Regions from separate parts of the Homo sapiens genome. Here all the other regions are linked to region 4. Evidence: fine-mapped expression QTL. A gene starts in region 4. Each other region holds a variant in brackets. All regions are shown on one strand. Distances are between the middles of the regions.

Region 1 (2,669 bases), 32 kb after region 4:
ACTGCAGCCTCTGCCTCCCAAGTTCAAGCGATTCTCCTGCCTCAGCCTCTTGAGCAGCTGGGATTACAGGCATCTGCCACTGCACCCTGCTAATTTGTGTATTTTTAGTAGAGACAGGGTTTCACCATGTTGGCCAGGCTGGTCACGAACTCCTGACCTCAGGTGATCGCCTGCCTCGGCCTCCCGTAGTGTTGGGATTACAGGCGTGGGCCACCGCGCCGGGCCCATGAACTGTACACTTTAAATAGGTGAGTTATATGATATGTGCATTGTCCCTCAGTAAAGCTGTTATGAAACAATCTAAATGCAAAAATATCCATGAAAAACAACATATAAAAATTGTAAATAATGTCAGGATCAGTATTACTGATTTTTTTCTTTCTGCCTTGGCTCCAGTGTGGCTTAGCACAGCGCAACATCACTTGTCCTATTTAAACACTTTATATTTTTTGTTTGTCATGGATTTTTTTCCACTGATCTAAAAAAGATTGCATTGAAACATTATTGATCTTGGTTACTGAGTTTTTTGGCACCCCCTTGAGTTTTTGTGCTCAAGGACAATGCCCTGCTTGCCTCACCCTGTTCCTGCCCTGCCAGGCAAGCCTTTTGCTCTCCCTAGGGTGGCCAGGGTCTCCCCCACCACTCTGTCCCTTCCTTCTCTCTGTCTCCCCATCTGACGGCTGAGACCAGCAAGCCCACCCCAAGAGAAGCTATGATTTGTCTGTCCAGCCAGTGAGTCATGTGTGAGGACCACAGTAGGGGGCTCTCTCCACATCACATCCTCCTCCTGCCCACAGTGTCTCCTTTGCTGCTTTCTCCCTTCTCTCCCATCTCCCTCCTTTTTAATTTTTTTGTTTTGTTTTGTTTAAGGCCAAGCACAGTGGCTCATGCCTGTAGTCGCAGCACTTTGGGAGGCCGAGGCAGGCAGATCACTTAAGGTCAGGAGTTGGAGACCAGCCTGGTCAGCATGATGAAACCCTGTCTTTACTAAAAATACAAAAAAATTAGCCAGTGTTGTGGCCCAGTGCCTGTAATCCCAGCTACTCAGGAGGCTGAGGCAGGAGAATCACTTGAACCTGGGAGATGGTGGTTGCAGTGAGCTGTGATTGCTCCATTGCACTCCAGCCTGGGCGACATATATATGTGTGTGTGTGTGTGTGTGTGTGTGTGTGTGTGTGTGTGTGTGTGTATTATATATATTTTTATATAATAATTTTTATA[C/T]AATATATATATATAAATTTTATATAAAATATATATTTTTTTGAGACGGAGTCTCCCTCTGTCAACCAGGCCAGAGTACAGTGGTGTGATCACAGCTCACTGCAGTCTTGACCTCCTGGGCTCAAGTGATCCTCTGGCCTCAGCCTCCCAAGTAGTTGGGACTACAGGAGCATGCCACCACACCCGGCTAATTTTTAATTTTTTTGTAGAGATGGAGCTTTACTACATTGCCCAGGCTGGTCTTGAACTCCAGAGCTCAAGCAATCCTCCCTCCTCGGCCTCCTGAAGTGCTGAGATTACAGACATGGGCCACCACGTCTGACCCCATCTCTCTTCTTTGAGATGGCTCCCTGGGTCCCCCAGCAGCTATCACTTGGCCTCCAGCCCTTGTCTTTTCAGGCATCCTACACCAGAGAGAGCCTGTGTCCCCTCCCAGGTCACAACCAGACCAATGCTCACAATTTCCCACCGTCCCCAGGATAACTCCAAGCTCCTTACCTGGCATTCAAAGCCTGGCACAGTCTAGAGCTTGCCAATCTCCTTTCCCCACTTTTCCTGCTCACCACTGCTGATTTCTCATCGGTAGATTCAGATGGGACTCACAGTTATTGAAGAGCTGCAAGGCATTAGCCACACCCCTCTGGTCTTTCCCTTATTAAGCCCCTATCTCACTTAATCCTCACAGCAGCATCGCTAGTAAGAATTATTGGGCCCATTTTACAGATGAGGAAACTCAGGCCCAGAGAGTGGAGGTGATGCTGCCAAGGGTCTGGGGTAGATGCAGGTGCACGCCCAGTCTGGCTGGCAGCATGGGACTCTGACCACCTGCCTGTGCCTCCCCTCATCCACTGCGGATGTTTGCTTTCCCTCAGGGCCATGTGTACAGTGCCTCTGCCAGGGTCACCCCCACTTTGGTCCCTGTTGGCCTTCACACTGCTAACTTAGTAGCCAAGGTCACATGCCAGTGTGTGATGCCAGCGTGGAGAGGAGCCATGGTTCTTTTATAACAGTTGCCATCTCCTACCTACTTATATTTGGGGCTTGCTATGTTGATAGCCGCAGGCTGGGTCTCAAATTCCTGGGCTCAAGCTGTCTTCCTGCCTCAGCTTTGTGAGCAGCTGGGATCACAGGCATGAGCCGCTGCTCCTGGCCACTTTTACTTCTTAAAATAAAATCAGAACATGCAAACCATGCTCCACAATATGCCATCAAGTGTTTCTGGTGCAAATCCCTACTGCTCTTGTGTTTGATGGTGGGGCGAGGAAACGGGCAGGAATGGGAAGGAAGGTGAATCTAGACTCCTGAGGCAGGACCATGGCTCCCTGGCCCTAACAGCCATAGATTTTGTGTCCATAACGGAGCCAGATGCTGGCAGCGATTCTTAATTGGGGTTCCAGGCTGCATTCGGGGGCCTAGGAATTTGGATGAGGGGAAAATTACATCTTTAT
Region 2 (2,682 bases), 67 kb after region 4:
GGAAGGCAGTGACTTATTGTGGCTTGGGGCATGGGTTTTTGGAGTCAGGCTGACCTACTGGCTGTATGGCTTGAGACTTTGTCTCTTCATCTGTAAAATGGGGAAGTTAAAACTTCATGGTGTGTATGTGTGTATGTGTGTGTTTAGACAGAATCTCGCTCTGTCACTCAGGCTAGAGTACAGTGGCGTGATCATAGCTCACTGCAGCCTCGGTCTCCTAGGGTCAGGTGATCCTCCCATCTTAGCCTCCTGAGTAGCTGGGCATGTGCCACCACACCTGGCTACTTTTTAAATTTTTTTTTTTCTGTAGAGACGAGGTCTTTCTATGCTGTTCAGGCTGAACTTCATGGGTTTATTGGGGATGGCTAATGGATGACATTGGCGGTGGTCCTTGATACCAGATAAGCCCTCAGTGTGAAGCAGCTCTTATTTTTCCTTGTCTTGAGATTGCTCTGGAATGGAAATTAGGCTTTTTTGAAGGTGTGACCCTTTTTGTTCATTTCTTCAGCAGTTACTTTTTATTTTTTAAATGTTTGACACACAGTCTCTGATAAATGATCATTCACCAATCACCGATTACTCTCCTTGCTCTGTTAAGTGTGACACTGTCCCTTTGAGAATCTGGCGACAGCTATGTATCCCATCACCACACACCCCAAAAAAAAAATTTATGTCTGGTTCCAGGAGTTACCTTTTATGAGAAGTCCATCTGTGAAGACCCTGGATGTTCAGAGAACTTCCTGGGAAAACACTGAAAGAAAATAAAGAGGCCGGGCCCGGTGGCTCATGCTTGTAATCCCAGCACTTTGGGAGGCTGAGGTGGGCAGATAAGCTGAGGTCAGGAGTTCCAGACCAGCCTGGCCAACGTGGCGAAACCCCATCTACTAAAAATACAAAAATTAGCTGGGCGTCGTGGCGCATGCCTGTAGTTGCAGCTACTTGGGAGGCTGAGGCAGGAGAATTGCTTGAACCCAGGAGGCAGAGGTTGCAGTGAACCAAGATCATGCTAGTACACTCCAGCCTGGGCAACAGAGTGAGACTCCATCTCAAAAATAAAATAAATAAAACAAAATAAAATAAATACAATTTCTGTTTCTAGCCCCTAAGTGGTAGCACTGGGTCTTGTTCCCTGAAAAAAACTAGGCTCAGAATCCACTCTCATTTCATCTCCCCTGATTTGATCTGAAAAGATTTTGTTTAGAGTACTACATGAATATATTATAAAACATGGGACAATCAGAATTGATAGTAAGAAGGCAAGTGGCTCTATTTGTACTTCCTCTCAATAGCTCCTAAAGGTAATGCTACCATTTTCTGTTTGTACATAGTCTTCCAGACTTTAAATTTTTGAACATATAAATATTATCATCTTAAAGACGTATGGAAAAAACCATTTTGAATAGGTTATTCCAAAATGTAATTTAACAGATTGCTCTGGAGGATTGTTTGTTTGTTTGTTT[T/GTTTT]GGAGACAGAGTCCCGCTTGGTTGCTCAGGCTGCAGTGCAGTGGCACAAACACAGCTCACTGCAACCTCTAACTCCTGCAAACACAGCTCACTGCAACCTCTAACTCCTGCAAACACAGCTCACTGCAACCTCTAACTCCTGCAAACACAGCTCACTGCAACCTCTAACTCCTGCAAACACAGCTCACTGCAACCTCTAACTCCTGGGCTCAAGCAGTCCTTTCACCTCAGCCTCCTGAGTAGCTGGACCATGACACCTACCTAACTTTTTATTTTTTGTAAAGAGGGGAATCACTATGTTGCCCAGGCTGGTCTCAAACTCCTGGGCTCAAGCAATCCTTCCTCAGCCTCTCAAAGAGTTGGGTTTACAGGCGTGAGCCACCGCACCTGGCTCCTGGAGCATTTCTGATGTGAACATGTGCTGATCTAACACCACTCCTTTTACCAGCTGCCTGTTCTAGAGCAAACCATCTTTTTTGAGCATTCCACTTTGGCTAGGCCCTTAGGCTGTTAGCAGTTTTCATCGCTACTGGCAAAGCTGCAGTGGACGTTCTCCTGCACATATAACCTCTTGATGCCACTGTATGAGTGAGTCTCTGCAAAATGAGAAGTAGAATTGCTGGGGTGAAAGGCATACATACTAACTTTTTTGATTAATTCCACCCATGTACCCTGATTTGGGCAGAATTTTAATCTCACTGTGAAATCAGAGCTTTGTTCTAGAGCCTTTCTTGGGGGTTCCATGGATCAGTGGGTCAGCCGTCACTTGTGCCCTGGCCCATCCTCTGTCCAGCTTGGGCAGCATGCATCATTCATTCTGATTCCTTAATTTGCCATATGTGAAAACATGGTAATCTATACATTACTTGGGTGCTATTATTATATATAACTAGCTTTGGAGTCAGAATTAGCGTCTCATCCTGGCTCTACCACTTTCCAACTGTGCGACTGTGGCCAAGTGACTCCCCTTCTCTGAGCCTCAGTTTTCCTCTTCTGTAAAATGGGGGTAAAGGGATAAGAACTATAGGGGGATCTCAGGGGATGGTTAAGAGAAATCCATGAGATAAGCAAACACATTATCTAGTTTAGTAAAGCTAAGCAATGAAGACTTAACAGCCCCATGGTGAAGGCTTAATACATGGTAGCTATAATGATTACTATTAATATTGTGAAATAAAAGGTTGTGATGAACCAACCATATCTTCTCATCAGGATGTATGTT
Region 3 (2,682 bases), 20 kb after region 4:
GGAGGGTGCTTGTGTGTTTGAGTGACAGCAAGGGGGCCAGCGTGGCTGGAGAAGAGGCAAGGGCCAGTGGGGTTGGGGGCAGAAAGGTAAGGGGTGGGGTCAAACCTGTAAGGCAAATGAGGACTGGTTTTTCCTGAGTAAAGTGGGAGCCATGGGAGGATGCGGAGCAGAGGAGGGCCATAGCCTGACTTCCGTTTTCCTAAGGTCACTGTGGCTGCTTGCTGAAAATCAACTGATGAGACAAGGGCAGAATCAGGGAAGCTAGTGATGAGGTGGCTTGGACCAGAGTGGTAAGAAGTGAACGCCTGAAACAAACGTCTGGCAGTGCGGGTGGTGAGAAATGGCGGATTCTGGCTCTGTTTTAAAGGTGAAGTTAACAGGAGTTGCTGCTGGATTGGATTAGGGTGAGAAAGAAGAATCAAAGCTGCCTTCAAGGTTTTTGGCACCAGCATGAAAGGATGGAGCTGCTACCAGCTGCAGGTGGGGTATGCTGCTGCTACCAGCTGCAGGTGGGGTATGCTGGGGAAAGGACCAGGCTCAACACCCAGGTGCAGGGAGGAAGAGAGTGGGCAACTGTGTCCAAGTGAGGAGAGAGATTTGGGTTCAAGATGACAATTCAGGAGATGTCAGCCTGTGGGGAGCATCCAGGGGCGCTAGTATCTCCTGAACTGGAGGGAGGAGAGAGGGCCACAGTAGCCAAGTGTGACCTCCTGATACCTGTGCCAGAATGGCTGGGTTTGGCCCCGCATAAGGAAAAACCCTGTAAACGTTTTCATGGGGCTGTAGAGAAAGAGGAAGACAAGCAGACATAACCTCCTTGGCATCTGATCAAAAGCCACCGTGGCCTGGCTGCTCATTTATTGAGTGTGGGTCTGGGAGGTGTCCATGCCAGGAGCCGGGGTGTGGGTGGCATGATCAGAGGCTGAAGCTCAATTGTCCTTGAAGTTCCTGGCGCCCAGGACCGACTAGCCCTGGGAGAGCGCCGTCCTGCAAGTGTTGATTGAATGAATGCAAAGAGTCTTGTGTGTTCCTCTGCAGCAGCCGGGAAAAAAAAGTGTGTGGGGTGGAGTGGGGCGGGTAGCATACCCCAGCCAGCAACACCATTCCTCAGCATTTGACAAAGTGTGATTAATTAATTTTTTTCTCTCTTTCTTTTCTTTCTTTCTTTCTTTCCTTCTTTCTTTCTTTCTTTCTGTCT[T/G]TCTTTCTTTCTTTCTTTCTTTCTTTCTTTCTTTCTTTCTTTCTTTCTTTTTCTTTCTTTTCTTTCTTTCTTCCTTTTTTTTTTTTTTTTTTGACAGAGTCTTGCTCTGACACCCAGGCTGGAGTGCAGTGGCATGATCTCGGCCCACTGCAACCTCCACCTCCCAGGTTCAAGCAGTTCTCCCTGCTTCAGTCTCCCGAGTAGCTGGGATTACAGGTGCCTGCGACCACGCCCGGCTAATTTTTGTATTTTTTAGTAGAAACAGGGTTTTACCATGTTGGCCAGGCTGGTCTTGAACTCCTGACCTCAGGTGATCCTCCTGCCTCAGCCTCCCAAAGTGCTGGGATTACAGGCATGAGCCACCGTGCCAGGCCATTAATTTTCTTTTTTTTTAGGAGACAAAGTCTCTCTGTTGCCCAGGCTGGAGTGCAGTGGTGTAACCATGGCTCATTGCAGCCTCCAGCTCTTGGCCTTGAAGTGATCCTCTTGCCTCAGCCTCCCAAAGTGTTGGTGTGAGCCACCAAGCTTGCTGAAAGTGTGATTCGTTAAGACTATTTTTATTCAAGTCTAACGTGTATACAGAAAAATGCATATTTCATACGCATACAGCTCAATGAATTTTCAAAAGACGAATGTGTCTGTGTGACCAGCACCTGGATCAATAGCTGAACGTACATAGCACCCCTCCCTGCCCCAGGACACCTTGCTCCCCCTGCAGTTACCCCTTGCCCCACCGGGGTAACCACCATCCTGACATCTCCCCCTAGAATTTCACCTGTTTTTGTACTTTGTATCCATGGAACTGTTACTGGAACGGGGTCCCGATCCAGACCCCAAGAGAGGGTTCTTAGACGTTGTGCAAGAAAGAATTCAGGGTGAGGCTGGGCGCGGTGGCTCACACCTGTAATCCCAGCGCTTTGGGAGGCTGAGGCGGGCGGATCACGAAGTCAGGAGATCGAGACCATCCTGGCTAACACAGTGAAAGCCCGTCTCTACTGAAAATACGAAAAATTAGCTGAGCGTGGTGGTGGGCGCCTGTAGTCCCAGCTACTCGGGAGGCTGAGGCAGGAGAATGGCGTGAACCCAGGAGGCGGAGCTTGCAGTGAGCCGAGATCGGGCCACTGCACTCCAGCCTGGGAGACAGAGCGAGATCCGTCTCAAAAAAAAAAAAAAAAAAGAATTCAGGGTGAGTTCATAAAGTGAAAGCAAGTTTACTAAGGAAGTAAACAAACAATAGAATGGCTACTGCATAGACAGAGCCTCCCAGAGGACTGCTGGTTGGCTATATTTATGGTTATTTCTTGATCATATGCTAAATAAGGGGAAAGGTGTGGGCAGTTCCCAGAACTGAGGGTTCCTCACCTTTTTAGACCATATAGGGTAACTTCTGGCATTGCTATGGCATTTGTAAACGTCATGGCGCTGGTGGTGGGAGTGTCTTTTAGCACGCTCATGCATTATAATTGGCCTATAATGAGCAGTGA
Region 4 (2,682 bases):
GCCTGGCTGGTCTCGAACTCCTGACCTCATGTGATCCACCCACCTTGGCCTCCCAAAGTCATTTTCGTATTTTTATTAGAAACGAGGTTTCACCATTTTGGCCAGGCTGGTCTTGAACTCCTAGCCTCAAGTGATCCGCCCGCCTCGCCTCCCAAAGTGCTAGAATCACAGGTGTGAGCCATGCACCTGACCCAGAAATTTATTTTAAACAGATAATATATACATATGGCAAATAGAAAGTTAAAAGAGAACAAAGAACCAAAGTTCACAATGAAAAGTAAGCCTGCATGCCTACCCTACCTTTTCTTCAGGTATTCAATGCACAAGCATACGATGCATAGATAGCTCTATTATTTTTCCAATTTTACACATGAAGAAGCAGAAGCACTGAAAGGTTATAGAACTTAGACTGTGCTAAGATTTATCAGTCAGGAGTTTTGTTTCATTTGTGTATATCAGGGCTTCACAACCTTTACGCTATTCGGCATTTTTTGCAGGGTTTTTTTTGGGGGGGTAGTGGCAGGGCTGGGGGTGGAAAGGGTGTCCTATGCACCGCAGAATGTTTAGCAGCATTCCAGGCCTCTACTCACTAGATGCCAGTATCGCCTCTCCACTTCCCCAGTTATGACAACCAAAAATGTCTTCAGAGATTGCCAAATGTCGTGGTGGTGGAGGGATGTCAGGGCAAAATCCCTGATAAATGGAGAGAATGTGGTATATCCACAAAAACTCCCTCCAAAACCACTGGTGTGTATGACTATACATCAGACCACCCCTTTCTTTTTTCTGTGTTTTACACAAACAGTAGCACGAATACACCCCGCTGCGGGTCTACTTTTCTTTTCTTACACCACTTTTTGGTGATCATTCCACTTCATTGCTTACAGGCAGAAAGGAACTTCTCTTAAACAGAACTGACCGGGAGAAGTGGTGAGCTGCCCGTCCTAGGGGTAAGCCAGCGAGCAGACAGGGGCTTCCAGGGCGGCGGGGCGGGGTTCCCGGGGCGAGCCTCCGGGAAACTTCCCGACCAGCCTCTGCTCACCTCGCGGTCCCGAGGCGCAGTGGAGGGGATGGGGCGGGGCGGGGCGGGGCCGCGTATCGGGCCCGCCCCCGTACGTCACGTCGCCGCGGCCCCGCCCCCGCGCGGGCACCTCCCCCTTCCCCGGCTGGGGCGGCTGGAGAGCCGGGAGTCGCTGGGTGCGTGGGGCTGCCTCGCCGCGTCTCGCCACGGTAGGTGGCCCTGGGGCGGCAGGGGGTGGCCTCGGGTTGCAACCGGGGGCGCGGGCTGGGGGCCGTGCGGGTCGGCCTCGGGCGCCTGGCAGCCCTCCGTCCTGGCGGCTGCCTCCGGGCCCGGCGCGACTGCTCGGGCTCCGGGGCTGGGAGCTGGGATCTGGGAGGCAGGCAGGCGGCGCGGGCGCGCGGTTCTGGGATCCGCACCCGCTCGGCGTCCCGAGCGCTTTCCGCGGGGTGCGGCATCCACCGGGCCCCCGTTACCACGCTTCCCGCTTCGGACCCAGCGCCTGGGAGACGCTCAGCGTCTGTTGGCGGGGGGACTGGGGGGGAGGGCGGCGCGTCCCCGCCTCCGGAGTCCCCAACCTCGCCCAGGCGCGCGGGGACCCCCAGGCGGGCGCCAGGGCGCGTGGAAGTTAACTTGCAGCAGCCGTGGAGTTGCGAGGAGCGTCAGAAGTGGAGGCGTTGGGGGCGGAAATCGTCGGCTGGGGAGGTGGGCGCTGGGAGCACTGGGTTGGGGAGCCCTAGTGAACTTGGAGGTCACTGGTGAGGAGTGGAGAGGAATTTGACCCGAGGATCCCACCCCAACCCCCAACCTCCCTCCGTAAACTCCGCTTCTCGGTGTGAGCTGGATGGGAGGTGCCCGGAAAGCCGGGACTGGGACTGGTAGCAGGGGACTGGGAGCATGGGCTCAGAGGCTGAGCACGCCTGACCTGGCAGAGTCGTTGTTAGATGGGACAGAGGTCGAGGTCTGGCATTCCCACTCAAAGGCCCGTTCCCTAGGGAAGGAACCATCCACCTCAGCAGAGTCATTAGAAAGAACCGTGCCTAACCTCTTGCCCCCTTCCCCTTTTACAGATGGGGAGACTGAGGCTTGGAGAGGTCACCTGCCCGTGACCCTAGGATTCACAGCTAGGATGTGGCAGAGCTGAAACTCACTCACAGGCCTCCTGACTTAATGTCCTTGGGGATGTTGAGGAGGCGGGCTGTTGAACTCCTACTTATCCTACAGAAGCCCCCTCAAGCAGCACCTCCTCCGGGAAGCCTTCCCTGGCATTCTCCTGGTATTGTTGGGTGCTTCCTGTTTTGAACCCCACAGAGTTAGCCAGCCCTTTTTCTCACTTCCCAACAGACATTCCCTTGCATGTCTGTCTGCCAGACTGGGCTGTGGGTGGACACCTCTCCCTAGCCTCCATGTGATAACCCTTTCATCTCAGCAGGGTGGTCTGCTGGCGAGGGTAGGCTTCTGGATTTGAACAGATCTGTGACACACCGGATTTAGTAGTGATGTGGCCCGGGCGACGCATTTTCCTTCCGATCTAGTCTCAGTTTCCATAACTGTAAAGCTGGGTTTATTTCATTGTCCTAAAGGAACTGTTGGGTCATTTCTGAATCCCCCCACCCCACTGAACCCCAATTGTACTGTTGTTTACTTAATATACATCTTTGTAT

Direction of the effects. Positions count from the first base shown, and alleles are read on the strand shown. Sizes are in standard deviations (SD) of each study's normalised expression. Not every link is listed here.
For the expression in monocytes after interferon gamma of the gene that starts at base 1,151 in region 4, allele GTTTT in region 2 goes with a lower level than allele T (moderate effect, 0.47 SD a copy in Fairfax 2014).
With allele T in place of G in region 3, the expression in monocytes after LPS of the gene that starts at base 1,151 in region 4 is lower (moderate effect, 0.59 SD a copy in Fairfax 2014).

The links. PIP is the estimated chance that this variant, and not a neighbour inherited with it, causes the effect.
Region 1: its variant is the best candidate, but not a certain one, in a credible set for the expression of TPST2 in whole blood (INTERVAL, PIP 0.56).
Region 2: its variant is the best candidate, but not a certain one, in a credible set for the expression of TPST2 in monocytes after interferon gamma (Fairfax 2014, PIP 0.72).
Region 3: its variant is the best candidate, but not a certain one, in a credible set for the expression of TPST2 in monocytes after LPS (Fairfax 2014, PIP 0.80).

What each region holds. Positions count from the first base shown.
Region 1 is chr22:26,556,641-26,559,309 of GRCh38, reverse strand. The region is part of intron 1 of TPST2 (tyrosylprotein sulfotransferase 2); the gene reads left to right. Among named protein-coding and RNA genes, the nearest start is that of MIR548J, 2.7 kb to the right of the region's middle. RefSeq lists an enhancer at 2,554-2,669. The variant C/T (reference allele first, on the strand shown) is at 1,222.
Region 2 is chr22:26,521,969-26,524,650 of GRCh38, reverse strand. It overlaps TPST2 (tyrosylprotein sulfotransferase 2), which reads left to right. Exons shown (of 7, transcript NM_003595.5): 7 at 1-2,655. Among named protein-coding and RNA genes, the nearest start is that of TFIP11-DT, 11 kb to the right of the region's middle. The variant T/GTTTT (reference allele first, on the strand shown) is at 1,461.
Region 3 is chr22:26,568,558-26,571,239 of GRCh38, reverse strand. The region is part of intron 1 of TPST2 (tyrosylprotein sulfotransferase 2); the gene reads left to right. Among named protein-coding and RNA genes, the nearest start is that of MIR548J, 15 kb to the right of the region's middle. RefSeq lists enhancers at 1,907-2,430, 2,431-2,682. The variant T/G (reference allele first, on the strand shown) is at 1,199.
Region 4 is chr22:26,588,601-26,591,282 of GRCh38, reverse strand. It overlaps TPST2 (tyrosylprotein sulfotransferase 2), which reads left to right and starts at 1,151. Exons shown (of 7, transcript NM_003595.5): 1 at 1,151-1,230. It also overlaps a transcript of CRYBA4 not described here. RefSeq lists enhancers at 797-936, 1,453-1,953 and silencers at 1,047-1,416, 1,427-1,606.